4 linked regions of the Homo sapiens genome follow. Changing the gene in region 1 together with any one later gene gives a genetic interaction. Each region holds a gene or a part of one and is shown in the gene's direction. Other genes may lie near its edges. The genes, in order: ASPM, RNF135, PTPRS and GNB5.

The links.
Region 2: changes in ASPM (region 1) and RNF135 together harm fitness more than expected from each alone (negative genetic interaction), as found in Homo sapiens cells (one study listed by BioGRID).
Region 3: changes in ASPM (region 1) and PTPRS together harm fitness more than expected from each alone (negative genetic interaction), as found in Homo sapiens cells (one study listed by BioGRID).
Region 4: changes in ASPM (region 1) and GNB5 together harm fitness more than expected from each alone (negative genetic interaction), as found in Homo sapiens cells (one study listed by BioGRID).

Annotation. Positions count from the first base shown.
Region 1 is NC_000001.11:197,143,659-197,151,333, reverse strand, and holds the start of ASPM (abnormal spindle-like microcephaly-associated protein), read left to right. Parts: upstream 1-4,664; 5' UTR 4,665-4,896; coding exon 4,897-5,193; intron 5,194-7,233; coding exon 7,234-7,377; intron 7,378-7,523; coding exon 7,524-7,675. UniProt on the Homo sapiens protein: Involved in mitotic spindle regulation and coordination of mitotic processes.
Region 2 is NC_000017.11:30,967,198-30,974,045, forward strand, and holds the start of RNF135 (E3 ubiquitin-protein ligase RNF135), read left to right. Parts: upstream 1-3,841; 5' UTR 3,842-3,876; coding exon 3,877-4,248; intron 4,249-4,266; exon of another isoform or gene 4,267-4,549; intron 4,550-6,848.
Region 3 is NC_000019.10:5,337,799-5,345,100, reverse strand, and holds the start of PTPRS (receptor-type tyrosine-protein phosphatase S isoform 1 precursor), read left to right. Parts: upstream 1-4,288; 5' UTR 4,289-4,437; intron 4,438-7,034; exon of another isoform or gene 7,035-7,302. UniProt on the Homo sapiens protein: Cell surface receptor that binds to glycosaminoglycans, including chondroitin sulfate proteoglycans and heparan sulfate proteoglycan.
Region 4 is NC_000015.10:52,188,391-52,196,155, reverse strand, and holds the start of GNB5 (guanine nucleotide-binding protein subunit beta-5), read left to right. Parts: upstream 1-4,763; 5' UTR 4,764-4,834; intron 4,835-7,765. Other genes in the region: MYO5C (unconventional myosin-Vc), read left to right, coding at 699-779, 2,102-2,254. UniProt on the Homo sapiens protein: Enhances GTPase-activating protein (GAP) activity of regulator of G protein signaling (RGS) proteins, such as RGS7 and RGS9, hence involved in the termination of the signaling initiated by the G protein coupled receptors (GPCRs) by accelerating the GTP hydrolysis on the G-alpha subunits, thereby promoting their inactivation.

The DNA of each region.
Region 1 (7,675 bases):
TGTATCACAGTCACTTATAGTCCTTTGATGAGGCATTCAGTCTCTACCATACCTAATAGCATAATTAGGATCTGTTTTTCAAATGATAGATGATTTTCTGCAGAGGAAGGCATAGTCTTATTCTCCAAACCTGGAATTTTGTACTGTGATACTTCTCTGGAAACTTGCCAGAGCTTCTATTCCACATCTTGGATTGTCATGGAATGAGTGTTTTGGGCCATTGCAGCCCAGACCTACTGCAGAGATCTTACTTGTTCCAGGCCTAACTCAAAAATGTCAGTCTTAGAGTTTACTAGGTAAATGGTTTGGTGAGATGTGTCTTAATAATGCATGCATTGCCTCCAAAATCTAAAGAGGCTTTACAAATGATACAAAGTACAAGTTGCCTCTTATTTTAGAAGAGATAGCCTGACATGTCTCAGACCATTGGATCCCTAAAAACTTTACAGATGTGATAGGACCCTGAACTTTGTCCCATCTGGTTTACATTTGTTTTATTATTGGCATCCACAGTGCTTGCTCCTGTTGAGAGATGCAACTTACCATGGGCTCTGAGCAGGCCTACACATTCTTGCTGGCTATGCTAAGAATGTGAAGCCCTTATTAATTTCTACATAGGCCATTTCTCAGGATTGTGTTTGCAGAAATCTTGAGGGACGATAGGATGTCTCCCTGCCCAGGCATAGTACTATAAAAACAGTCAAATCTCCAATTCGCTCTTCCTTTCCTGTAATACAACCCACTGTGTGTGCAGGCATCCATCAAGGGCCCTTTGTATGGTCCCATGAGACTTAGGAAGCAGGAGGAATCAATGTGAATGAACATGCTGACACTCTAGCTACTGTTTTTTCTGTGAATAATAAAGTCTTGTCTCTAACCCAAAACTGTCATATTTTCTGCTGGCCTTTATGAAACTGGCACGCTAACTCTTTAGCTTGCAAGAGGGATAAAATCTCAGACTCACACAATTCTTGACAAGTACTTCTTGCTCACCAGGTTTAATTAGCAAATGTCATCAATATAATGGACCAGTGTGATACTAAGATCCAGGTCTCTCTGAACAATATTACAGTATAGGTAGGAAATTTGACGAGCCCTGAGGCAGGACAGTAATGCTACAGCATTGTACCACTACTTAAGTACAAAGTGCTTCGGTTTTTCAATACTGGATGAATGGGGAAAAACAAGAAAAATGCATTTTGCTTGATTCATAGCTGCAAACCAGCTGACAAAGGTATGTTGATTTGTGTATAAAAATAACACATCTGAAACTGTAGTGTAATAATTGGCATCATCACCTAATTGCTATAATCTACTATCATTTTCCAGAATCTATCTGGCTTTTGCACTGGCCAAATAAGTGGAGAAAGTGGGTATATGGACAAAATCACTATCCCAACATCTCTCAGGTATTCAGAATAATCTCTGAATTGCCGTGGTGGGAAAATGGTGATTTTCAGGGGCTTCCACTTGGCCCTTTCTCCAATAATTGCCCTTGTTCCTTGGATCTAGGAACCAGTGTGAGAATGTGGTCAGTAAGTGTTCCTATTTTATATTCTGGAAATGGGTGGATCCAAAGGACACTTGGTAAGACAGATTCTGACTTAGATGCCATCTGTCACCGGTTCTTGAGAAGCTCTCACTATGTCTGGTGGTCCACAGTGACATTTTAGGATTCTGGAGTATAGCAGAAAGGCAGAGCTATTATCTCATTATCTAATAACCCTTAGGAAGTCAAGTTCCTGCCCCCAATCCATATTCATGTGGGTAAATGACTGCAGTTCCCTCTGGGGAATTGTTGAGAGAAGATTTATGGTATTCGTGTTGCAGGGTTCTTTCTAGTCAAGGAGCTTTGGGTGTATGAACTGTCTTAAGTTTGGAAAGTGGGTAAAAGGCATAACTGCCACAACATTGGCTTCAGTTAGGTTTTTTGCTTTGCATATGTGGTATTTCTCTGCCTATATATGTTAGGCAGCACCATAGTATATAGCTCATCTTATTTATAGGGCCCTTGAGAAACTGGCCATTGCCACAGATCCCTGCCTCTAATTACAATTCTGCCATTAGCATATTGTGGTAAGAACTATACCACCTTGTCTATTAAGTGCCAATCGACTTTGACCACTTGTGGATCATATAATTCACATGGAGATCAGAGAACCTATTTTCATTATTGATCCTCTATCATCATTTCTGGCCTATAAAAAATAGTCACCCAGGTCTTTTCATGGATGCTGGAGTCCTTTTTATTAGTTAATGCATTTATCAACACCTTGGTAAAAGGAGAATGGGTGGAGGGTGTGCATGTTTAGATGTGACTTGGCCAAGCAGGTTGCACATGTAGATTTTCTCCAACATTCCTATCTTCCTGAGCTTTTGGACTCCTTCGTGTACAGAATGCCAGGTAGTTTGAGCATTTTGACCTAACTGCCTGTTTTGTTTTTGTTTTTATAAAGACCATGTCTCACTTTGTTGCTGGTTTTTAACTCCTGGGCTCAAGCGATCTTCCTGTCTCAGCCTCCCAAAGTGCTGGAATTACAGGCATGAGCTACCGTGCCTGGCCTTGACCTACCTGACTGTAAACCACTACTGAGTTCAGTTTTCAATTAGTGAACCTATTAAACTATTAAAGCCATTCCCAGGTACTTCGGACATTGTATTAATTAAATGGGTAAAGTGCACCCATGACAATAAATTTGGCCTTATTGTTCCTTATGATTTGTCCTCTTGGTCTAACACCATTACATTCCACCTTAGACTGTCAAAATCTTTTAACTCTTTGCTGTATAGGCTGTTTCCTCCCTCCCACAGCATATCTTGCACTCTCCTCCGTCCAAGTTTTATTTTTTGGAGCCTAACTAAGCTAATGGAGAGGTCGTGGGGGGTAGATGCTGAGGAGAACTGGAAATGACTTGTGAGGCTCTGCTCCAGGGTTTTGTTTTGTTGTTTTTTTTTTTAAGCCTCTATGAAAGAATTTTTTTTTTTTTTTTTTTTTTTTTTGACAGCGTCTTGCTCTCTTGCCCAAGCTGGAGTTCAGTGCCATGATCTCGGCTCACTGCAACCTTGCCCCCACCCCCCACCCCAGGTTCAAGCGATTCTTCTGTCTCAGCCTCCGGGGTAGGTGGGATTACAGGCATGCTCCACCACGCCTGGCTAATTTTTTTATTTTTAGTGGAGACGGCATTTCGCCATGTTGGCCAGGCTGGTCTCAAACCCCTGACCTCAAGAATCCGCCTGCCTCAGCCTCCCAAAGTGCTGGGTTACAGGCTTGAGCCACCGTGCCCAGTGGAAAAATTTCGTTTAAATATTGTTAAGGTCCAACTTCAGGTGAAATTGGACACCATTGAATATAATTTCATGTCTCATCTTCCTTATTTTGATTTCCCATTGACTTCTCTTTTTACATGTTTTGTGTAACCATACATACATCCAGACATTATTTTTATTTTTTAAGTTTTCTACTGCCTTTAGAGGCAATATAGTGTAGTGGGTAAGAGCAAGACTAGGGCCAAACTGCTGGGATTACAGGCATGTGTACCTATCTGGGTTATGCCACTTCCTACTTAGCTGTATGACCTGTATTCCTCATCTGTAAGATACAAATAATGGTACCTACGCCCTAAGAGATACCTCGTAGGTTTAAGGCAAAGGTTGAGATAAATAGGTAAAGGATTTTTAAAAAATCCCTAGCCTAGGGTCGGGCGCCGCTCAGGCCTGTAATCCCAGCACTTTGGGAGGCCGAGGCGGAGGCAGGCGGATCACTTGAGGCCAGGAGTTCCAGACCAGCCTGGCCAACATGGCGAACTCCCCTCTCTACCAAAAATACAAAAATTAGCCAGTCGTGGTGAGGCGCGCCTCTAATTCCAGCTACTTGGGAGGCTGAGGCAGGAGAATCGCTTGAACCCGGGAGGCGGAGGTTGCAGTGAACCAAGATCACGTCACTGCACTCCAGCCTGGGAGACAGAGCGAGACTCCATCTCAAAATAAATAAATAATTTAAAAAATCCCTAATATGTAAGCTATAATTATTATTAGATCCCTACAATTGAAATAAAAACTAATAAGATATTTGTGAAGGGCATTGCCAGTCAAAACAATCATTTATGAATTACTGGTAATCTCAGGTTTCATTTGTTTACCTGGTTTTGCTCCCAGCGTCCCGAGGTAATTAACAGCATGTAAATGTACTGAGTCCCTGCTATGTTGTCACTAAAATAAGCATGTTCATACAAACTAATTATCTTTACATCTCTACCATTCAGCCCTGGAAACCGCGACAGTAAAGTTAATATAATTCTGGGCGGGGTATGCATATGAGAGGAGTGGCATAAACCAATTTTTGCCTACGTAACAGTTTTATCTATGATTGTTCCTGGAAACCGCAATGATTACTACATGTATTGTGGAAATGCTGTGACTCCCTTCCCTTCAGCACAACCAAAAATATAAAGACGAATTTCAATTCTAAGCCCCGGGTTTTAGACGGTGGCCAGGATTCCGCTACCGTTCTCACCTCCTCCGCAGATAGCGATTGGCGGCCGGATGCAATCATTCAAATGAAGCGCCGCCGTCTCATTGGCCAGGGGATGCTGCTCACCGATTGGTCCCGTGACGAGGAGGGCGGTGCCCGGAGGTCCTCATTGGTGGAGGCGGCAAGTTTAAACAGAGTCAAAACGCCATACTTGTTTGGCTCCTCTTTTTAATTTGCGAGTTTATTGGGCTTGTTTTCTGTTTTCTAGGGAGTAGGTTAGTGGAAAAGAAAAAGGGCCGAATTCACTCCCACGACCTCTACAGCCGCCCCTGAGGGGAAGCGGTCAGCGTAAGTCCCGGATCCCCGCTCCGGAGCCGCCTCGTGGGAGCGGGGCAAGGAGATCCAGGAGGGGTCTCGAATCTGCCATGGCGAACCGGCGAGTGGGGCGAGGCTGCTGGGAAGTGAGCCCGACCGAGCGGAGGCCGCCCGCGGGGCTGCGGGGCCCCGCGGCCGAGGAGGAGGCGTCTTCCCCGCCGGTCCTGTCTCTCAGCCACTTCTGCAGGTCTCCTTTCCTTTGCTTCGGGGACGTTCTCCTGGGAGCCTCACGGACGCTGTCTCTGGCCCTAGACAACCCTAACGAGGAGGTGGCAGAAGTGAAGATCTCCCACTTCCCGGCCGCGGACCTGGGCTTCAGTGTGTCGCAGCGCTGTTTCGTGTTGCAGGTAGGTCTCAGGAGGAGCGTGCTCCAGGCCGGTGTTCTGCTTCTCCGCTATCTTTCCTGCCACCCTCCTCAGGAAGGTTGACGATTGGAGAAGAAATCAGAAAAGACCCTTAGAGAATAAAGTCAGTTCCCTTTCACTCAATAACTGTGGGTGGCTCTTGGAAAAGAAATCAGAAAAGACCCTTAGAGAGTGAAGTCAGTTCCTTTTCAATAACTGTGGGTGGGCCCTTGACGCATACACATGTGTGTGAGTATATATATATGTGTCAATATTATATATATATATATATATATATTCTCTAATTGAAGGCTAGGATAGACGCTAACTTGGGCGGGGACAACACATAAACGCGCGCGCACTTAGCATCTTTAGGAGCAAGTTATATAGACTTCTCTGTTAAATTGACAAGCACTTTTACTAGACTTAAGGCGTTGTGAAATAGCCTTGCCGTTCTAAATTAATAGACAATGCACTTTTTTAACACTTTTTTAAGATTGACAGGAGTACCTTGGTTGGTTAAAGCAGCTTTTTTTAAAATTTCTATCAGCCATCTTAATATGCATTTTAGTTTCCATATGTACCCTTAGAGTCGAGGTAACTGGTTTTTTTTTCCGGTGAAATAGTGAGCTTTGTTCTGGCTAAATGCCTACAATAAAAACCAAAAAAACCTATTCAGAGTTGTTTTCAATATATACGTGTAGTATGTATGCACACTTTAGTATTTTAGTCCTTTTTTTCTTTGCTGTTAAGTGTAATTTTAATGCTGCATCAAATTTAATTTTATAAATGTTGTTTCAAGAACTCCTGTAGCTTTCTTTTACTGCATTGCATTTGCAAGAGTAATGCTCCAATCCCCTTCACCAAAGACTGGAGAATTTATGTTTTTATTTTGACTGCTGTGACCTTTCCATTGAGTAGAATCACCAAAAGTATGAAAACCGTTAGCCGAGGAGGTCTGAACTAGTAGGCTAATAACCACTTCATTAGGCAGAAAAAAGAGATTCTAATCTGAGGTCCCTTAACTTGTGTGTCACCAATGGTTCATCTATCTACACTTCAGAACCTACCCACCCCGCCCCTCTGTTTCATGAATCACTGCCTGCTTTCCTTTCTTTGGAAAGACAGATTTCTTTTCTATCCACATAATACTTCAACTTACTCTTTTTTGTTATAATGTGGAACTAAATTTTGTGGTATTTTTAGAATAAACTATTTTATAGAGTAAAAATGCACCATTCTTATTTTTTAAAATTAGTTGTTTATGATGTTATATTATTTCTCCTTTAAAACAGAAACTTGTCTGTTTCTCCTGAAAAACAAAATTTGTTTTGTCATGTCAGCGTTTAAATTTGGCAGATTCTGTCTACCTGCCAGGGTGTGGGGTGTAGATGTTAAAGTCCAAACTCTGGCATTAGACTGCCTGGGTTCTAATAGGTACCTGCGTGACTTTGGCAGACTTTTCTGGATGTTAGTTACTTCATCTGTAAAATGTGCATAATCATAATACCTGCTTCCTAGGGATGTTAGCATTAAATGAGTTTTACAGGATACCTGCACTTATGCCTGGAACAATAATACCTGTTTAAGAAATCTCAGTATGATGATGTGGACCTTAGAGGAATTTGTAAGGAAGAAGGAATTTAGCTGATCATCTTTACATTTCTTTTTAAATAAAGTCTTCATAATGCAGGGTCCTTGTGTTTGAAGTAGAAGTACTCTACACATCTAAAAATTAGAAATGTACAATTAAATCTTTTGAAACCACTCAAACAAAATGATTTAGAGACTATCTGTTCTATTGCTTTAATACAGTTAAGATTTTATTATTTATTTTGTTGTGAACCCTGTTATTTTTAGTGACTTTTTTTCTTATAATTAAGCAGATAGGGTAGGAGAAATATATTTGATTTATTAAATGTTTAGTATATAGAGTGTTGGTTAACAATTATTAAGCCCTACTATATTGTAAGTTGTATATAAGGTGTTTTGGTTATTATGTAATTACTATTGTAATTATATAATGTATTGTTTTGATTATAGCCTAAAGAGAAAATTGTTATTTCTGTTAACTGGACACCACTCAAAGAAGGCCGAGTAAGAGAGATTATGACATTTCTTGTAAATGATGTTCTGAAACACCAAGCTATATTACTAGGAAATGCAGAAGAGCAGAAAAAGAAAAAGGTAATGTTTTAACCATTCTGTGATTTACTCTAAGAAATTGTTTAATAATAAATAAAACTTATTTTGATAACAGGCTTGAAGTAATATTGCTTATTTAATATTCAATAGCTACAAACTTAATTGGTATATTTTCCTTATTTTTGCAGAGGAGTCTTTGGGATACCATTAAAAAGAAGAAAATTTCAGCCTCTACAAGTCACAACAGAAGGGTTTCAAATATTCAGAATGTTAATAAAACATTTAGTGTTTCCCAAAAAGTTGACAGAGTTAGGAGCCCACTACAAGCTTGTGAAAACTT
Region 2 (6,848 bases), on another chromosome or scaffold:
TTTGTATTTTTTGGTAGAGGCAGGGTTTCACCAGGTTGGCCAGGCTGGTTTCAAACTCCTGACCTCAAGTGTTCCGCTCACCTTGGCCTCTCAAAGTGCTGGGATTACAGATGTGAGCCACCGTGCCTGGGCATAAATGCATTTTTGAAAGAAATGAGCCCATCTGTCTTATTAATAGCTATCATTCCAATAAAATGTTTACTGTCTTTAAAAGTTATTTTATTTATATAAAAGTTATAAATTGCAGCATACTTTTCTTTTGTTTGACTGCTAATAGTAATTATATTGATAATTAAATCCAGGGGAAAAAATTTACCAAGAGCCTTTTTGTCACAGGAAGTTAAGAAGAATTAAAAATTTAATACACATACATACTTTTGTTGTAGAGAAGTATTACAAAGTGATAAAAGACTTTCATGCATGAAATATATTGCTTTGGAATGTAATTCTGTGGAGGAAATGGAATGGAAATACAAGTTCAGAAAGATAAAAGAATGACAAAATTTCTTTTTTTTTTTTTTTGAGACGGAGTCTTGCCCTGTTGCCGAGGCTGGAGTGCAATGGTGCCATCTTGGCTCATGGCAACCTTCACCTCCCGGGTTCAAATGATTCTCTTGCCTCAGCCTCCTGAGTAGCTGGGATTACAGGTGCCTGCAACTACGCCCAGCTAATTTTTTTTTGTATTTTTCGAACTCCTGACCTCATGATCCGCCTGCCTCGGCCTCCCAAAGTCCTGGGATTACAGGCATGAGCCACCGCACTCGGCCAAGAATGACAAAATGTCTGATGTAGGCTGAGCGCGGTGGCTCACCTCTGTAATCCTAGCACTTGGGAGGATGAGGTGGGCGGATCACCTGAGGTCAGGAGTTCGAGACAAGCCTGGCCAACATGGAGAAACCCTGTCAACATGGGGAAACCCCATCTCTACTAAAAATACAAAATTAGCCGGGCATGGTGGCGAGCGCCTGTAATCTCAGCTACTCCGGAGGCTGAGGCAGGAGAATGGTTTGAACCCGGGAGGTGGAGGTTGCAGTGAGACGAGATTGTGCCACTCCACTCCACTCCAGCCTGGGCAACAAAGTGAGACTCCATCTCAAAAAAAAAAAAAATCTGATATAAATGAAGAATTTGCTAATATATTTTTACTACCAGAGCTGACCACTCTCCCCCTTCCCCCTTTCTTTCTTTCTTTTTTTTTTTTCTTTTGAGACAGAGTCTTGCTCTGTCGCCCAGGCTGGAGTGCAGTGGTGCGAACTCAGCTCACTGCAAGCTCCGCCTCCTGGGTTCAGGTCATTCTCCTCCCTCAGCCTCCTGAGTAGCTGGGACTACAGGCTCCCGCCGTCACGCCCGGCTAATTTTTTTTGTATTTTTTAGTAGAGACGGGGTTTCACCGTGTTAGCCAGAATGGTCTCAATCTCCTGACCTCATGATCCGCCCGCCTCAGCCTCCCAAAGTGCTGGGATTACAGGCGTGAGCCACTGCGCCCGGCCCCCACTTCCCCCTTTCTTATAACCACTGCATGATTTTGCATAAAACTTTTAGGGCGTGTCCAAGAAAAAAGTTTGAAAACTACTGGTTAACTCACTCTTTCCAGAAACTTGGCTGTGAAATGGAGAAGAGGAGAGCTGGTTCCAGGGAGGCTCAGGTCAAAGGTGATTTTATTTTATTTTTTAATTTTTAATTTTTTTGAGACTAGGTCTAGCTCCTTCCCCAGGCTGGAGTGAAGTGGTGTGATCACAGCTAACCACAGTCTTGACCTCCTGAGATCTCATGGCTCATTACAGCCTCCACCTCCCTGGCTCAAGCAATCCTCCCACCTCAGTCTCCTGAGTAGCTGGGATCACAGGCCTGCGCTACCATGTCTAGGTAGTTTTTGTATTTTTTTTGTAGAGGCAAGGTTTCACCATGTTGCTCAGGCAGGTCTCGAACTCCTGAGTTCAGGCAATCCACCTGCCTCAGCCTCCCAAAGTGCTGAGATTACAGGCATAAGCCACCACGCCCCGCCAGTGATTTCATTTTTTAAGTTGGAAGATCTGAGCATGTTTAAGTGTTTAGTATCATGCCCGTTTTACAGAAAAAAAGAGGCTCTTAGAAACTACGATTTTACTCCGATGCGGAGATTCTAGAACAAGATCCAGGTAATACATCAGTCAGGATAGGCTAGGTTATGCTGTAGCAGCACACACCCACTAAATCTCAGTAAGCTGAATACATCCTAGTTTTCTTCTCCCTCTTACTACGTATCCTAGGGTGCGTTGGCAGGGAGTCTGCTCATCTTAGCCACTCAGTGACCCAGGTCACCGGATGATGGTTTCATCTCCATAATTGGGGCAGCTGGCAGAAAGGGATACAATGGCCGGCTCAGTCGCCTTTAAAGCTGGTGGGAAGTAACATATTACCTCTGTGTGTTTCAAGTGGGTCAGGGAAGTGCCAGTCCTACCATGTGCCCAGAAAGGGAAAGCACTGGAAACGTTGATGAGCAGCGCTGCCTACTCCATGACACTTCCAGTATTAGAAATAACCACAAACGCTTTTTTTTCTTTCTTTTCTTTCTTTTTTTTCTTTTTTTTTTTTTTTTTTTTTTTGAGACGGAGTCTCCCTATGTCGCCCAGGCTGGAGTGCAGTGGCGCAGTCTTGGCTCACTGAAACCTCCGCCTCCCGGGTTCAAGAGATTCTCCTGCCTCAGCCTCCCAAGTAGCTGGGATTACAGGCATGCGCCAGGGCGCCTGGCTTTTCTTTTCTTTTCTTTTTGTATTTTCAGTAGAGATGAGGGTTCACCATGTTGGCCAGGCTGGTCTTGAACTCCTGACTTCAAGTGATCCAAAGGTCGGCTACAAACTTGTATTATCTGATACCTACTTTGAGCCCAGGCCAGAAAGGATAAAGTAAAGCATGAGACGTTGTTAGTTCATTTCAACAGATTGGGGAGTTGTGGGTTTTAGTCTCTGACGCTTCATTGTTACCATGAGAGCCTGCAAGTTTTTCTTTTTTCTCTTTTTTTTTTTTTTAACCTCTTTGGGTCATCTGGGAGGACGTGGTGCTCTTTTAGCTCTAACATTTTCTGGTTGCAATGCGTTTAGGACTGGGATGCGAAGTGAGTGAGTGAGTGAGCCTTCTCAGGAAAACACTTTCTAGAATTTTGTCCGAGTGTCTGTTGGGAAACGCGCTTACATCCCGCAGAAGGCGGTAAGGACACAGCGCACAACTCTGCATTATACCTGCGAGTTAAAAAGCCAAGGGTTCGCTCACTCAACCTTGAATGCGCGTCAGAATCACCTGGGGGAGGTTTTACAAAATACCCGTGCTCCACCCAAGACAATGAAATCAGACTCCCTGCGAGCGGGGCCGAACATCAGCATTTTTGAGGACGCTCCCTGTGGCTGTGCATCGGTGATCTTTAATCCCCTGCTACTTGTTAGAGGAGCTGGATGACACTTCGTGGGCTCATTCTCATAAATAAGCTGCTGAATGGAGTCCTCTCCTCCCAAGAGTTGTCGGTGTTGCATCTTTTTTGTTGTTTATTTTTTTTTAAGCCAACGGACGAAGACATCCAACGGTGCTGCATCTTAATGGAGGGACATCCAGCTAAAGGGAATCTTGGAGACCTCCGCGGGTTTCTAGCAGCTCGCGGCATGTTGGTTTCCCAGGGCAAGAGGCCGCCACTGAAGGTCAGCTCTGTCTTTCCAGCTGGGCACTGGAGGCTCTAAGTCTGTTTTCAGCAGGATCGGAGGAAGGAGACGGGGTGGCGCCAAGGAAGGAGGAGAAAAGGCGGCCGAGAAAAGGAGGAGGGCAAGGGGAAGAGGAAGGGCGAGGGAGGAGCCTGAGGAGACTCGCCCGGCTCAACCCCGACGTCCGCGCCCCGGCCGCCTGTTGGCCATGGCGGGCCTGGGCCTGGGCTCCGCCGTTCCCGTGTGGCTGGCCGAGGACGACCTCGGCTGCATCATCTGCCAGGGGCTGCTGGACTGGCCCGCCACGCTGCCCTGCGGCCACAGCTTCTGCCGCCACTGCCTGGAGGCCCTGTGGGGCGCCCGCGACGCCCGCCGCTGGGCCTGCCCCACTTGCCGCCAGGGCGCCGCGCAGCAGCCGCACCTGCGGAAGAACACGCTACTGCAGGACCTGGCCGACAAGTACCGCCGCGCCGCACGCGAGATACAGGCGGGCTCCGACCCTGCCCACTGCCCCTGCCCGGGCTCCAGTTCCCTCTCCAGCGCGGCCGCGAGGCCCCGGCGCCGCCCGGAACTGCAGCGGGTAGGGAGGCCGGGCCCGCAGCTCCCCTGGCTCCCCCGGGCTGCCCGCCGCCTGACCCTTTCCCATGTGGCTCGAACCCCTTTCCTCAGCCGTTCTACTTTTACGTTCCTTTTCTCAGTCTAAAAGTCGAGTTCCGCTCTTCGGAGGCACTTTGGAAAGTTCATAAAAGTATGAAGAAGTAGAAAAAAACAAATTCCCCATCTTCCGAAAGCTTGTCAACTTAGCTGTTACACAGCTTGGCATATTTCAACTTCTTCCCAATCGATCTTCGGTCTCTTTCTCTGAAACTTGTAAAATTGTGGTAAGATCTATATAACATTAAAACTGGCCATTTTAACCTTTTTCTTTATTTCTTTGAGACGGAGTCTCGCTCTGTCGCCCAGGCTGGATGGAGTGCAATGGCGTGCGTGATCTCGGCTCACTGCAACCTCCGCCCCCCAGGGTCGAGTGATTCTCTTGCTTCAGGCTCGAGAGTAGCTGGGATTACAGGCGTGCGCCATCACGCCCGGCTAATTTTGGTATTTTTAGTAGAGACGGGGTTTCGACATGTTAGCCAGGCTAGTCTCAAACTCTTGACCACAGATGATCCGTCCGCCTCGGCCTCCCAAAGTGCTGGGATTACAGTCATGAGCCACAGCGCCTGGCCTCATTTTAACCTTTTATTTTTTTGAGACGGAGTTTTGCTTTGTGGCCCAGGCTGGAGTGCAGTGGCGCCATCTTGTCTCACTGCAAGCTCCGCCTCCCGGGTTCACGCCATTCTCCTGCCTCAGCCTCCCGAGTAACTGGGACTACAGGCGCCCGCCACCACGCCTGGCTAATTTTTTGTATGTTTTTTTCTTTTTTTAAAAAATAGGGACGGGGTTTCACCGTTGTTAGCCAGGATGGTCTCGATCTTCTGACCTCGTGATCTGCCCGCCTCGGCTTCCTAAAGTGCTGGGATTACAGGTGTGAGCCACCGCGCCCCGCCTATTTTAACCATTTTTAAGTGTACAATTCAGTGACAAATTAGTTACATTTCCTGTTGTGCAACTATCACTTCTGTTTCCAAAACTGTTTCATCATCATAAACAGAAACTTTGTACTCATTAAGCAGTAACTCCTCATTTCTCCTCCCTCTAGCCCCTGCTCACATCTAAGCTACTTTCTGTATCTGAGTTTGCCTGTTCTAGATATTTCATATAACTGGAATCGTTCAATGTTTGTCCCTTTGTGCCTGGTTTCTTTCACTTAGCATAGTGTTTTCAAAGTTCATTCATGTTGTAGCATGTGTCAGAACTTTATTCCTTTTATGGGGCTGAATGATATTCCATTGGGTGGATGTGCCACATTTTTTTTGTTTGTTTTGTTTTGAGATGGAGTCTTGCTCTGTTGCCAGGCTGGAGTGTAGTGGCATGATCTTGGCTCACTGCAACCTCTGCCCCCTGGGTTCAAGTGATTCTCCTGCCTCAGCCTCCCAAGTAGCTGGGACTACAGGCATGCACCACCACACCCAGGTAATTTTTGTATTTTTAGTAGAGACGGGTTTTCACCATGTTGGCCAGGATGGTCTCGATCTCTTGACCTTGTGATCTGCCCACCTCGGCCTCCGGAAGTGTTGGGATTACAGGCGTGAGCCACCGCACCCAGCCTCACTGTGATTTTGATCTGGATTTCCTTAATGACTAATGATGTTGCCCATCTTTTCTTGTGCTTGTTGGTCATTTATAGATCTTCATTGCAGAAATGTCTATTCAAGTCCTTTGACCATTTTAAAATTGGGTTGTTTATCTTTTTGTTGTTGAGTTTTAGAGATTCCTTCTATATTCTGGATATCAAATTAGATATGACTCACAGATATATTATAAAATATATATTCTCCCATTCTAAGCGTTGTCACTTTCTTGATGGTATCCTTTGATGTGCAAAAGTTTTAAATTTAATTTTTATCTGTTGTTTTCTTTTGTTGCTTGTGCTTCTGTTGTCATATTTACAAATCCATTGCCAAATCTCAGTTCATGAAGATTTACCCCTATGTTTTCTTCTAAGAGTTTTTTTTTTTTTGAAACGAGGTCTCGCTCCTTTCCCAGGGATGGAGTGCAGTGACACGATCTCAGCTCACTGCAGCCTCCACCTCCCGGGTTCAAGCAATTCTCCTGCCTCAGCCTCCAAAGTATTTGGGATTACAGGCGCCTGCCACCACACCTGGATAATTTTTGTATTTTTAGTAGAGACGGGGTTTCACTGTGGGCCAGGCTGGTCTTGAACTGCTGACCTCAAGTGATCTGCCTACCTTGGCCTCCCAAAGTGTTGGGATTACAGGCATGAGCCACTGTGCCAGCCTCTTCTAAGAGTTTTATGGTTTTAGCTTACGTTTAGGTAATTGGTCAATTTTAAGTTAATTTTTGTATATGGTGTGAATTAGGGGTCCAACTTCATTCTTTTGTATGTGGAAATCCAATTGTCTTGGTACCATTTGTTGAAGAGTCTATTCTCCATTGATTAGACTTGGCATCCTTGTCAACAATCATTTGGCTGGGCCAGGCATGTGGTTCACACCTGTAATCCCAGCACTTTGGGAGGCCAAAGTTTCATCTAGAGATGAAACCCCATCTCTAGAAAAA
Region 3 (7,302 bases), on another chromosome or scaffold:
GCCCAGGCAGGAGTGCAGTGGTGTGATCTCAGTTCACTGCAAGCTCCACCTCCCGGGTTCACGCCATTCTCCTGCCTCAGCCTCCCGAGTAGCTGGGACTACAGGCACCTGCCACCTCGCCCGCTAATTTTTTGTATTTTTAGTAGAGATGGGGTTTCACCATGTTAGCTAGGATGGTCTCGATCTCCTGACCTCCTGATCCGCCCGCCTCGGCCTCCCAAAGTGCTGGGATTATAGGCGTGAGCCACCACGCCCGGCAGGGACCACGATTATTATTATCCCCATTTACAGACAGGCAAACTGAGGCACAGCTAGAGTAGGGAGACACGCAGGAAACACACAAACCGGCCAAAATATAAAATCATTCCAAATCATGATAAATAATCTGATACTGAAGTAAAGATGATCATGTGGTCACCTCAGTGAGATGGTCTGGGAGGGTCTCCCAGAGACTCGAAGAGCAAGGAGGAACAATTGGCCTTGAGAAAAGCAGGAGGAACAGCATCCTGGTCAGAGGGAACAGACAGTGCAAAGGCTCTGTGGCAGGACCTTACCTGGTGTGTTGGAGGCACAGCAAGGAGGCCCGAGTGGCGGGAGCAGAGTGAGCGAGGGTGACAGAGGGCGGGGAAGGGGGTAGGTTATGCAGAGCTTGGTGAGCTGTGGGAAGAGCTTAAGCTTTTACTCTAAATAAGATATTTCCTATCTCCTCCCAGCACTGTTGACTCCAGGAATTTTTGCTCTGTTGCCCAGGCTGGAGTGCAGTGGCGTGCTTAGAGTTCACTGCAGCCTCAAACTCTCACATCCAAGCGATCCTCCTACCTCAACCTCCCAGGTAGCTGGGATCACAGATGTGTACCACCATGCCCAGCTAACTTCTAAAACTTTTTGTAAAGACGGGGTCTCCCTATGTTGCCCAGGCTAGTCCCAAATACCTGGGCTCAAGCCATCCTCCCGCCTCAGCCTCCTAAAGTGCTGGGCCAAAGTGCCTGGCCAACTCCAGGGATTTTAAAGACTGTTTTGTTTACTTCTGTTGTCCACAGCACTTCAAACAACCTGGGAGCGGGGCCGGATGCATGGCCTGAACAGATGGGTTTCCCAAGCACATGCTGGAATGTATTTTTTTTTTTTTTTGAGACAAAGTCTCACTCTGTTGCCAGGCTGGAGTGCAGTGGCGCTCAGCTCACTTACAACATCTGCCTCCCGGGTAGAAGCGATTCTCCTGCCTTCTGAGTAACTGGGACTACAGGCACGCGCCACCACGCCCAGCTAATTTCTGTATTTTTAGTAGAGATGGGGTTTCACCATGTTAGCCAGGCTGGTCTCAAACTCCTGAGCTCAGGCAATCCACCTGCCTTGGCTTCCCAAAGTGCTGGGATTACAGGCGTGAGCCACCGCACCTGGCCAACGTATTTTTTGTTTGAGAGGGAGTCTCACTCTGTTGCCCAGCTGGAGTGCAGTGGTGTGATCTCAGCTCACTGCAACCTCTGCCTCCCAGGTTCAAGCAATTCTCCTGCCTCAGCCTCATGAGTAGCTGGGACTACAGGCATGCACCATCACACCTGGCTAATTTTTGTATTTTTAGCAGAGACAGGGTTTTGCCATGTTGGCCAGGCTGGTCTCGAACTCCTGACCTCAGGTGATCCACCCGCCCTGGCCTCTCAAAGTGCTGGGATTACTGGCATGAGCCACCGCGCCCAGCTGCTACAATGTATTTTAATTCTGTTTTTGATGTATTTAATCTGTTTTCTTTGACTGCTCACAAAATCCCTCAGAGGTACTAGTGGTTGTCCCCCTTTTCTAGATGGGGACAGCTAGGCTTACAGTGTTGCGGCCACTTGTTTGAGGTCACCTCCCAAACAGGTCACTGGGCTGGGGTTCGTGCCATGATCAGCCCCTCCACGATCAGCCATCTCATTTTACTGTGTCTCCACCAATTCTCCAAGGCTTCAGCACCCACTGTGCGTGAGAAACCACGCTAAGCATTTGTGCACAGACCACCCCATTTGATCCTTCAAGATGGGATCGTGTTCCCATTGCTTGGATGAGAAAACTGAGGCCAGATTGTAAACGGTCAGATCAGGGTCACCCCACCAGGAAGAAAAACAAAGTAGGCTCTGCAAACGTGGCTGCTGCACTGGCCGCTGGGAAACTCCAAGCTTAAATTAGGTTCCTTGTTAAATTATTCATTATCTCCTCTCTTTTCTCCTGTTTATGACTTCCGCCTTATCGTTTTGTTCCCCGGGTTAATGCTTTTTGTTTATCTGCATCTGTGGCCTGGAATGAATGAATCAACAATTTTGGAGGAAAAAAAAAACCAATTCTAAAGTTGAGTTCCTCTGTTGGGCACCAGGCCTTCTCCAAATATGTGCCTTGAGGAAATAAATGCTTTCGACATGATCAAAACACAAGGACTGATGTGCAATCTTGCTTGGTGGCTGTGAGCCCTCCAACCCCCTTACCTTTGTCAATATCCCCCTTTTATTTACTTCCGCTCTGTTTTTTTTCCTTATTTTTGAGAGTCTCACTCTGTCGCCCAGGCTAGAGTGTGCAGTGGTGTGATATTGGTTCACTGCAACCTCCGCCTCCCGGGTTCAAGAGTTTCTCCTGCCTCAGCCTCCCAACTAGCTGAGACTACAGGCACCTGCCACCACGCTCGGCTAATTTTTGTATTTTTAGTAGAGATGGGGTTTCGCCATGTCGGCCAGCCTGGTCTCGAACTCCTGACAAGTGATCTGCCCACCTTGGCTTCCCAAAGTGCTGGGATTACAGGCATGAGTCACCGGGCCCGGCCTCTTTTCTCTTATTATTCCATCTTCAGGCACCAATGGCAGCCAGGCTGCCACATTATAGCAATTCATCATCACACCCTCCTTAGGAGCAGGGGCTACCTTGCCCCATTTTACAGATGAGAGCTGAGATCCAGAGGCAAATCCATTCTACAGATGGGGAAAGTGAGGCTCCGGGCCTCACACAGCAAATCAGTGTTTTAGCTGGGTTCCAACTGTGGCTCGTCCTGACTCCAGGGAAGCAGGGGATGGTAATTAGGTGAGACCTGTGTAAAGTGCTTACTCTATAAGAAGTGCTCCATCATCCATTCATTCATGTGTTCAACCTACAATAGGGATCTCTGGAGCCACACTGTAGTGTAACTAGAATAAAAACGGGATAATGGGACCAGGCGCGGTGGCTCACGCCTGTAATCCCAGCACTTTGGGAGGCCGAGGTGGACGGATCACTGAGGTCAGGAGTTCAAGACCAGCCTGGCCAACATGGTGAAACACTGTCTCTAACAAAAATACAAAAATTAGCCAGGCGTGGTGACAGCACGCCTGTAATTCCAGCTACTCCGGAGGCTGAGACAGGAGAATAGCTTGAATCCAGGAGGCGGAGGTTACAGTGAGCCGCGATCACGCCACTGCATTCCAGCCTGGGCGACAGAGTGAGACTCCGACTCAAAACCAAACAAACAACAACAACAACAACAAACCGGGATAATGGGATAGAGTGGAGTGGGGCGTGGCTGGTAGCTGTTGTCAGGGAGGGCTTCTCCCAGGCGCTGCTTATTTGAGCAGAAATTGGAAAGATGAGAAGGGGAAGTTCTTGGATGCTCAAGTTAGAGGAACTGTAAGAAGCTGGCTGAGGCGGGAGGATCACCCGAGCCCAACTACTCAGGAGGCTGAGGCGGGAGGATCACCTGAGCCCAGGAGTTTGAAGCTGCAGTGAGCTATGATCATACCACTGTACTGAGGCCCAGGTGGCAGACCCCATCTCTGAAAAAGCAAAGAAGGAGCAGCTGGTTTTTCTGGATCATTGACATGGTGGGGGGGAGGGGACAGGGTAGTGGGCGCTAATGTGAAACGGCGAGCTGCAGAGAGGAGGCGGGATTTTATTCCAAGGGTACTGGGGAGCCGTGGCACAGTTTAGGGCAGCGCACAGAAAGTGCCATGCCCTTTGCACCCAGGACGCTGGGGCTCCCGCACGGACAGTAGCCCCAGGGGCCCTTCCCGCCGCCGCCGCAGCCGCCACCACCACCACCACCCCAGCCGCCCACGTGTCCCGCGAAGCCCCGCGCCCCACGTGCTCCCGCGGCCCTTTAAACACCCCGGAGCCACGTGACCGCGCTGCGCCGTCCCATTGGCCGGGGGGCGTGGCGGCCGCGCGGCTGCGCAGTGACGCGCACGGGCCGGCCCTGCCCCCGACCCGGCGGCGGCGGCGGCGGCGCTGGCGGAAGGGATGACGTCACCGGCTGGGGGGGCGCGCGAGCGGGAGCTAGGGGAGCGCGAGCCGCAGTGAGTGTCCTCGCGCCGCCCGCCCGGCAGCCCGGCCGGCGCGCGCACGCCGCGAGCCGCTGGCGCTCGGGCTCCGCTCGGATCCCATGCAACAGCCACGATGTGAAGCGGGGCAGAGCCGGGGGAGCCCAGCCCAGCCAGCCTCCAGGTAAAGCCAAAAAAAAAAATAAAATCATGGATTAGAGGAAAAAAAAATGCAGGCGCTCCAAGGGGGGTCTCGGAGGCAGCCGAGTGGGCAGCGCGCCGGCTTTGTGCCGGGGAAGCCTGCACGGCCATTGTGCTCGGAGGATGCTCGGCTGCAGCCAGTTGCACGCCCAGCCGCTGCGCCCCGGTAGCTGCGCCCGGACAATGCCCCGAGGGACAGGGCCGGGGCCGCGCTGGGGGCGCTCGGCAGGGGGTGCTGGGGGGGCTTCGTCCGCGGCGTGGGAGGGGGCTGGGCTGGAAGCGCCCAGAGCGCGGCATTGGAAGCTGCCCAGCGCCGCCGGCTGCACCACCCCGGGCTGCGGGCGGGGCAGAGGCGCGGAGGGGGGCGCGCGTGTGTGCGGAGCCGGTGCCGGCCCCGGCGGCGCCCGGCCCGGGTCCCCGGGCGGGTCCTGGAGGCAGGGGGCGCTGTGCCGGGGGATGGGGGGCATGCGGGCGCCCCGGAGCGGAGAGGAGCCGGGACGGGTGGCTCCAGGCGGGGTGGCTCCAGGGCTGCTGCGCCCGCCGCCTTCCCTCTCCGGGTCTCCCTCCCCTGGAGACCCCCTAGTCTACGCCGTCTCCCCTGGAACACTCCGGGCCCTGTCGTTGCCTTATGGGAGGTCGCCCCTCCGGCACTCGGGCATTGCCCCACCCTTCTGCGGCCTCGGCGCCCCCTTCCAGCCTCCCCACCCAGGGGCGAGCCTCAGCCCCCAGCCCCAGGGGCTCTGGCAGGCAGACGCGCACGCCCAGCACCCCAGTCTCCCCTCCGCGCTGGGGGCCCCGTGGGGATCCCGAGAGTGGGGAAGCCGCCCCTGGAACCGCCAGCCCCGCGGGTTCCGCACGCCCCGGGAGCCCCCGGGGGCTGCGGGGGGAGGGGAGGTGACGTCATACCGGGGGCGGGGCCGTCGGCACTGGGTTAAAGGGGGCGCGGGGCGTGCCCTGAGGGGAGCCCCCCAGGTTAGAGTGCCCGCGCCGTGGGTGCGAGGGTTCGGCCAGGTTGCGGCCAAGTTCACCTCTCTTTATGGGAATCTCTCCTAAAATTAAGATCCTCCCCTTCGGACCTCCCCCTACAAATCCTGGACATTTCCCACCAATTCCCCCCCTTCCCAAATTGGGGAACTCCCCTTCGGCCGCTTTCTCTCCAGAATCCTCAAATCAGGGAACCTTTCCCACAAACTGGGAATCTTTTTTTCAGCCACACCCCCCGCCCCAAATCTGGGACCTCCTTCTTCGGTTGACCCTCTTTCCCCAGTCTCAAATCGTCTTCTCGTCTCCCTAAATATGCAGCTTCCAAGAACGCCCCTTCCTCTGCAACCCTTCCTCAAATCCAGCCACCTCCTGGGACCTCATTCCCCCAAATTAACAAACCTCCCAGAGCCTCATTGGGGGTGCCTTGCCTCCCCCTTCTGGGCTCAGCTGGGATTCCCCTGTCCCCCCCCGTCACAATCTAGGGGAGCCCCCTTCTGAGCATGGGGTCCTCCTGCCTCTGGCCGAGACCCTAAAAACACATCCCGGCAGCCGCGGCTAGTGAAGCGGGTGTCCGAGGTGTCGGAGTCCCGGCTGAGCAGCAGGGATGATACCTAGAAGCCGGAGGAGGCAGGAAGAGACCCCTAGGGTCCCAAGGACAGGGACCCACACGCTCCGGGCTCCCGTCCGCCACCACCCGGACTTTGGCTGCTGGGATTCTGGCCTCCTCTGGGTGGCCCCCTATCGCTGCTGTCCTTGGGGTGCAGAGGGTGACGGCGCCTCTTTGTCTGGGGCGCCCTTCTTCCCTCTTTCTGCCGCCTTTCGCCCGGGAGAAGGAAGCCATCCCGCTCCTCTGCTCCTGCGATACCAGCGGCAGCTGCTGGAGCGTTTATTAATGGCCCAGGGACTTGGTCGAATCTGCCATTTGCATAAGTCCCCTCCCCCTCCCAGGGTCCCTTCCTTTGTGCCCCCCTCCCCCTGCCAATCGCGCCTGCCTTCTGTCCCTCTGCTCTTCTTTCTTTGCCAGCTGATATTTTGGCGGTGGAAGGCAGGCAGCTGGGGCTGGGGGCGGCTGCTTCCCGCCCTCAAATCCCACAGCCCCCCAGCTTGGGCCTGACTGAGTCCCCACCTGGGCATCCCTCCCCTACCCCCCCGCTGCCCTCCACAAAGCCTTCCGTGGGGCATCTCTTTCTGGCTGGCAGGCTGGCGGAGTCTTCATTATTTCCCTCCGGGAAGCAGGGTCCTGCCCTGTTCCCCAGGCCCGGGGGACACCCTCATCATGACGGTGCACTTCTGCATGGGGGCTAGGCCTCCCAGCCCCCTGGGGGCCACCGCCCGCCATACTCCATCATCCTGAGAGTTGTTCTAATTGGGCTCAGGCAAACAAAACGTCGCAGGAGACCCAGGCTGCCTGGTGAGCTCACGCACTTTTCTATTTCTGCCACCCTGGCCGATGACATTGCCCCTAACCCCCCAGGGGGTGACAGAGACTGGTACTGTCAGTGGCCGTCCAGAGATGCCGTCCCAAGAGGCGGTGGACTGGCCCGCTCCCCACTCCCCGCGGGAGATGGGTGACAGGTCATTTTGGCGTGGCCCGGCTGAGGCGCTGGAGGGTGCTACTGGTTGGCAGGTCAGCTCCGGGGACGATTTCCCCCTCTCCAGGAAACCTTGAGAGCCTCTGAAGTCTGCGTGAGGTGGCGACAGAGAAGGGGACATTCAAACCCCAGGTTCCTGCCTGCTGCCAGCAGAGAAAAAAAAATCACTCCTTATACCCCGGTTGAGCGTTCAGTGCGCCTTTTTTCCCTGCCTCCCAGGGGATTTCAGGCATCGTCCAGTGTCCATGGACCCTGCTTGGAGACACAAGTCC
Region 4 (7,765 bases), on another chromosome or scaffold:
AAATATTTATTAAATACTAACACTAGGTCTTAAAAACATAGAAATGGGCTGGGCGAGGTGGCTCACAGCTGTAATCCAGCACTTTGAGAGGCCAAGGTGGGAGGATTGCCTGAGCCCAGGAGTTTGAGACTAGTCTGGGCAACATAACAAGACGCTCTACCAAAAAAAAAAAAAAAAAAAAAAAAAAAAAAAAGCTGGGTGTGATGGCACACACCTTTGGTCCCAGCTACTTGGGAGGCTGAGGCGGGAGGATCGCATGAGTCCAGGGGTTCGAGGCTGCAGTGAGCCATGATCATGCCACTGCACCCCAGCCTGGGCAATAAAGGGAGACCCTATCTCAAAAATAATAATAATAATAATCACACACACACATATACACAAATGTCTATGATGCATTCATTCCCTGCCCATTAAACTCACAAATGTGTATGTGGAGGGGTGGCCATGTGGGAGGTGGGGAGGCTAGAAGGGGGCTCCTCTTACTGTTTTCTGATTATCTGATTTGCCTTTGCTCCCTAAGGCACTTTTCTCCCCTTGTTTTCTTTTCTTGGAAATAGGTAACATACAGTTCCTGAACCAAATTATAGGCTAAAAGAACCACCTGTGCTTCCCAATGGTTCCCAATAACCAGAACCATTATTTTATGAACAGAGTTATTATTTTGCATGGTCTAACACCATGTTATGTACCGTTTGCAGATCATAAAGATCCTTAATTCATACACACCTATAGATGACTTTGAGAAGAGAGTGACTCCATCCTTTGTTCGCAAAGTACAGGTGAGATTCTTAAGGATGTGCCTTTTAATTTTACTTCCTAACTATGGTATAAGATGTTGATACTTAATTAACATTATAGAAATCCAGGATTAAAGTACATTTACCCACATATACAAATGAAAGGCACCCAGCTCAAAGGTAAGCAGGAAATTTTCCTGTGAAATTTTCAGAATCCACCTTAGTCCAGGTGGGAGGGGAATGAAAGCACCAAAATCATGTCTCCCGTGCTGTATTCTGTCAATATATCTTATTTCTTACTGATCGTTGAATACTGTGCAAGTGGGCAGAGGCTGAATGGAAACAGAGACCATTTTTCTTTTATAATCATTTGTATAACCATTTTTTCTTATATAATCCCTAAAGTTTGTCCCCTAAGGAACTCTAGGGCAGCAGTTCTCCAAGTTTGGCTCAAGGATCCCTGGGAGTCCTTGAGACACTTTCAAGAGGGTCTGCAAAACTCTTCCTTTTTCTAAATATGTACCTGTGGATTTTCTAAGTAGGTATCTGTGGATTTTCTCAATAGTTATCTGTGGATTTTCTTCGTGTACTTCAACCAAAATAACATATCACAACAGATTGAATGCAGAAGCAGATATATATGATATATCGTATATATGATAATATAGCATATATATTAAAATATGGCGTATATAATATATGGTTATATATGATAATATATTAAGTCAGACATGAAAGAGATTTGCAAAAATAGAAAATACCACTTCTCACTAAATTTTCTTTGTTTTGGAAACTTATGTTTAACATGTGTAGAGCTTATTTTAATGAATTAATAAATCATTTTAATTACTAATATGGCAAATACCGATATACACATATACACAATGTATATTTAATTACTAATATGGCAAATGCCAATATACCCATATACACAAAAGCTTTTGGGGCCTCAGTCATGTTTTAGTATAAAGCGGTCCTGAGACCAAAAAGGTTGCAAACCCATGAATGAAGAAGAAAGATGGGTTCAATAAAAATGTAATACTTGAAATCTACTCATGTTTGACCTTAGAATTATGCCATGAGAATAGATTAGAATAGAAAACAGATTTATGGTCAACTCATCCCATGGGAAATTAACTTCTGAAGTGAAACAGGACAAGTTAATTGTTCTGAGAGCTGATCTGGAAGCCCTGGATAGACTTTGGAATTGTGCTGTTGTTAAAAAGTTCTCATGTATGTCATTTCATGTGATGGTGCAAGGAGCTCTCCACTAGAGATAGCTGTGTTTTGCCTTGACTTTCAGGTAGCAGTAAAGCAGAACATGTTAGTTTCCTTACTCATTTTTCCTCTGATTCTAATTTCAGGCTCTCCTAAATAGCCGGGAGGATTCATCACAGCTGATGTTGGATACCAAATATCTCTTTCAAGTCACATTTCCTTTTACCCCCTCTCCACATGCTCTGGAAATGATTCAGATCCCCAGCAGTTTCAAGCTAGGCTTTCTGAATAGGTTATAGCAGGAGAAAAAGTCAATGCACTTTTTCTTCAAAAGCTAAGTGAAGGTTCAATATGAGGGATGTGTTTTATTAATTGGCAGTGGAAATTGGAATGTGATTTAAGGAAGAAAACAGACTTTTCTCAAATGGACCACATCATCTCTCACTCACAGTGACAATGCTGCTCCTGTAATTTTGTAAGAATTCACACACACCAGCTGTATTTGGAAAAGCCATGTCTCACTCTCGAATCTCAGCTGGTTTTCACTGAAATTCCTGGAGGGCTCATATTTTCTTCCACGTGCCTCTTGATCTGTTCTGTCTTGTGGCAGGGCTCTACCAGGAGGGAGTGAGATCTGGGGACACAGTGGCTTCCAAGTTTTCTAAGGTTCATGTGAAACCTGAGTACATTTACAAAGCTGCAAGTGGATTCTAGTGCTGAGTCTTCCAGGAAAAAATCCCGTTTGGCCACCGTGACCTGCCAAAAGTTCTCTTGCCCCATGCCTGCTGGGGACAGAAGGTTTTCATGAACTCTTTTTACTGAAAATGCCCTGCATTTAAAAATGTTTATTTTAGACCCTTCTAAATTTTTTTTTTTTTTTTTTTTTGAGACTCCGGAGTCTCGCTCTATCGCCAGGCTGGAGTGTAGTGGCATGATCTCGGCTTATTGCAACCTCCGCTTCCTGGGTTCAAACAATTCTCCTGCCTCAGCCTCCTGAGTAGCTGGGACTACAGGCACCTGCCACCACGCCCAGCTAATTTTTGTATTTTTAGTGGAGACAGGTTTCACCATGTTGGCCAGGATGGCCTCGATCTCTTGACCTCGTGATCCGCCCACCTCAGCCTCCCAAAGTGCTAGGATTACAGGCGTGTGCCACCGCGCCCGGCTGACCCTTTTAATTTTTAAGAGTGTTCAATCCGAGATGAATCATTTGAAGTATTTTTATATGTATATCTATTTAAAACTAATATATTATTAAAGCTTAATTGCCATGCCGTTTATCTTCTCTGAAAGAACTTCAAATCTTACCTGCCAACATATTCACCATAATTTTTTTATTTTTTAATACCTTTCATACAATAACTTTTTTAAAACAACCTCAGATTGAAAAAGCAACCTAAATTACTTTCGCTCTCTAATCAGCATTTCAATGTATTTATTTTTAAATTTTCTCAAAAAGTAACTAAAAAATTGTGTCGGACCCTACTTTTGAGAAATCTACGTTTCCCAAGTTTTATGGGAACTGGCTATTCCTTGTCCCGGCACACCTTCTCATTCCTTCCTTTCAGAGCCTAAAACCTCATTTGATAAGCACTCCTAGTCTCTGGCCTGTGGATCCAGTGCTATTCTGTCACCAACCTAAGAATCCCAATTGCACCTTCTGTTTCTGACAGTCACAGGTGACAGCTGTGATTCTATAATACAGACTGGTGTCTTAGAGGTAGGAATAATACATGATTATGAAGCATCACCCTGCTAATACATAATAATGTCTTTTTATATTATAAGTGATTGAGTTTAGTTCATTTCAATACATTGTACATGAAAAAATGAAAAGTAGAACTTTGTAATACTTTAATCAATAAAATTAATTACCAAATGAATTGGGTCAGATTCTTTCATTGCGAGGAGATGACATGTCTCTTAAGTGTACAAGTTGTATGCCTTTCTTTACGGTCATACTGAAAGATGCTAGAATCTTTATAGATTCATAATATCTCATTTAAAGTATATTAAAATGTTTAGAGAAGAAGTAAATATGTCATAAGTGCTGGCTTAGGCTGTGTCTCCAGGGCGCTTCCACACTGTCAGAATGAGGGGCTACTTGGCAGAGAATTGGCAGGGTTTCTGATCCTGAGCTGCGGCCTCCATGCCCTTTCTAGACCTTCCCCACACCATGAGGAGCCATCACTGTTGGTTTTCGGCTTCCATAACTCAGGATTTATGCCTGTTTTATAGCACTTACCCTGGACTGGAAGCCAGAAATGCTGCCCATTTCCTCTGTAGGCCTGTGAGCCCCAGAGGGCAGGTGCCACATCCTCCTCATCCCTGCCTTCATCCTACTGCTGATGAGGTGGGAAGAGAACTGAAGGAGCAAAGTCCCGTTGGAGGACTGTGTGTGTGTGGTGGGGAGTCAACCATGGGAAAAAGTAGGTCATGTTTGGGGACAGGGAGACCTGTGGAGGCTGAGGAGTTTATGTGTGGAAAAATGGGGAAAGGGAGGCACTCATCCCACAGTCTTGATCAGTTCTACAAAGCTGACAGTGGCAAGGAGACCAAAATAGAGAAATGTTAAGAACATGTGGCCCAGGTGAATGTGAGGGCTGCTCAGTGAGTGGGCGCAGACACAGAGGTCAAACCTGCCAAGGCCTCCCTCCACAGAGGGGCTGGGCAGGTTCCAGGGGTGAGTGAGGGATGCAGATGGCAGTGCGTGCCCAGCAGGGAGCATGGAAGTGCTGTGGAGGAAGGAAGCAAGCTGAGCAGCACTCCAGAGAAGATAAGGAGATTAGCCAGTGGGAGACGTGCTTCACACCTCAAGCTGCGCGCTGGTCCTCACCTCTCACCATCTGCTCTGTGGCTCCCAGTGCTGACTCTGGAAGGTATGTGCATGCTGACATTCGGTTAAAATACTCCAGCTTTTGAAATGCTCAGAAAAGCATCCAGATGAGTACAGGGCACAGTGTTAGCAGGTCTTTCTGTGCGGTGGGAGCATGGGTGAGGGGTTTTGTTGTTGTTAATCCGTAGAATCTAATTTTTCTACAATACACATGAATTTATTTTGAAATAGTAAATTTCAAATATTTCAAATTGAAATATTTCAATATTTTTTACATTAATATTGGCATCAGGAAAGAGATTAAGCATACTTAAAATCACTAAGTCAGTTTTAAAATTTGATCCAGGTGACACATGGCAACATAAGCCTCTGAGTACAGCTTATGGGGTTAGAAAGAGGTTTTTAGTTGTAAGTCTGAGATACATCCACATTGTGTGTATCAGTTATTTTTTATTCTATGCTCATTTCACAGTTTCGTCTGTGACTGGTGAACATTTGGGTCTTTCAAGTTTAGGCCTTCTATGAATAGCTGCTATGACATTTATGTTTTTTTTTTTTTTTTTTTTTTTTTTTTTTTTTTTTTTTTAAGGAAATAAGCATTATTTTCTGTGGTGTATGTATGCACGAGTAGAATTGCCTGGTCATAGACTATATCCGTTTCACTTTAGTAGCTCCTACCAACCAGTTTTCTACAGTGGTTATACCGACTTATACTCCCACTAGCAGAGAAAGGCAGTTCCAGTCTCTGCATCCTTGCCCACACTTTGTGTTGTCAGGCTTTTTAGGTTTTCTGATGGCTAAGTAGTTGTATCACATCGTAGTTTTACTTTGTATTTCTATGATGACTAATGATAATGAGCACCTTTTTATATGTTTATTGACCATATAAGTATCCTCATTTGTGAAGTGACTACACAAGCCTTTTGTCCATTTTAAAAATAATCTTTGGGCTGGGCGCGGTGGCTCATGCCTGTAATCCCAGCACTTTGGGAGGCTGAGGCGGGCAGATCATGAGGTCAGGAGATTGAGAGCATCCTGGTTAACACGGTGAAACCCCATCTCTACTAAAAATACAAGAAATTAGCCGGGTGAGGTGGCGGGCGCCTGTATTCCCAGATATTTGGGAGGCTGAGGCAGGAGAATGGCATGAACCTGGGAGGCGGAGCTTACAGTGAGCCGAGATTGCGCCACTGCACTCCAACCTGGGCGACAGAGCAAGACTCTGTCTAAAAAAAAAAAAAAAAAAATTTATTGAGATATGATGTCCACGTTTTGTTTCATGTTTTAAAACCCATCATTTTAAAACATATATTTCAGTGTTTTTTAAGTTTATTTACAAGGATTTGCAACCATTGCCACTGACTCCAGAGTATTTTCATCACCCCGAAAAAGAAATCCCATACCCCTTAAGCAGCCACTCACTCTCAGCTCCCTCCTTCCCCCTTATTCTCTCTTCCCTCCACCTCGCAACTACTCATCTGCTTCATGTCTCTATGGATTTGCTGATCCTGTACACTTCATATAAATAAATCATACAATATGTGGCCTTTTGTGTCTGGCTTCTGTCATAGGATAGCGTTTTTAAGGTTTGACCATGTTGTAGCATGTGTCAGAACGTCATTCTTTTTTATTGCTGAATAGCAGTCTACTGGAGGGATAGACATTTTGTTTTTCATTTGTCGGTTGGTGGACACTTGGGTTGCTTTCACTTTTGGCTAATAATGCTGCCATGAAAATTAGTATGTACATTTTTATGTGAACATATATTTTCTTTTTTTTTGTTCTGAGACGGAGTCTCACTGCATTGCCCAGGCTGGATTTCAGTGGCGCGATCTTGGCTCACTGCAACCTCCATCCCCCAAGTTCAAGCAGTTCTCATGTCTCAGCCTCCCAAGTAGCTGGGATTACAGGCACCTGCCACCACGCCTGGCTAATTTTTGTATAGTAGATATGGGGTTTCACCATGTTGCCCAGGCTGACCTCAGGTGATCTACCCGCCTGGGCCTTCCAAAGTACTGGGATTACAGGCATGAGCCACCACGCCCAGCCAGTGAACATACATTTTCAAGTATCCTGGGTATATATCTAGAAGTAGGATTGCGGGGTCTTATGGTAACAGCTGTATATTTAAGTTTTGAATAACTGCCAAACCGTTTTCCACAGCTGCACCATTGGAAAACGGCTACCCCACTTTACCTTCCCACCAGCAATGTATGAAGGTCCTTTTGTCCATTTTTAATTGAGTTAATGAAGCAGTATTTTAAAAGTAAAAACTGGATATACCCTATGTATCCAAACACGGAAGTTGGTTTAATAAATTATGACACTCCACAGCATAGAATAATGCTGAACCTATTACCAAACAAGGTTGATCTATAAGTGTTAACAGAATAAGTTAGATGAAGAAAGCAAGTAGCCCTATTTGCATGACTACCAAAGCTGTATCTATGTGTTTGTGCCAGAAAAGTCTGGAAGAATAAACAACAAACTAAGGGCAGTGAAAATGCAGGGCATGTGATGGGGGATTCAAGTTTTACTTTTTCATCTTTGGTACTGGTTCTTTTTAAAATAAACACGTATTTCTGTGGTAATTTTTTAAGTCACATATTTAGGTAAAACAGATATCAAAGAAAGTTTGTGCTTGGCATAAAGTTATTAGGGGAAGGTTTGAGAAGTTCTATGAACTACTGCAGAGCAACTTCATGTCAAAATTTGTTAAATGGGGCATTTCTGTCTTTCTTGTCAAAATGCTCATCGAAACATTGGCTCTAGCTGTGAAAAATTCTCTCATCATAAAAAGGATATTGACAATAAGTACAACAAAGTACTAAAATTTAGCTGATACAAATACTAAGTGAAAAACATCAAGATACAGAAATGTAATCAGTATACATGAACAGTATGACCTCAGTGGTCTCAAATCTATTCTTGCTACACCAAAATGTAAAAAGAAGTTTCTCTGAGTGGTGGGATT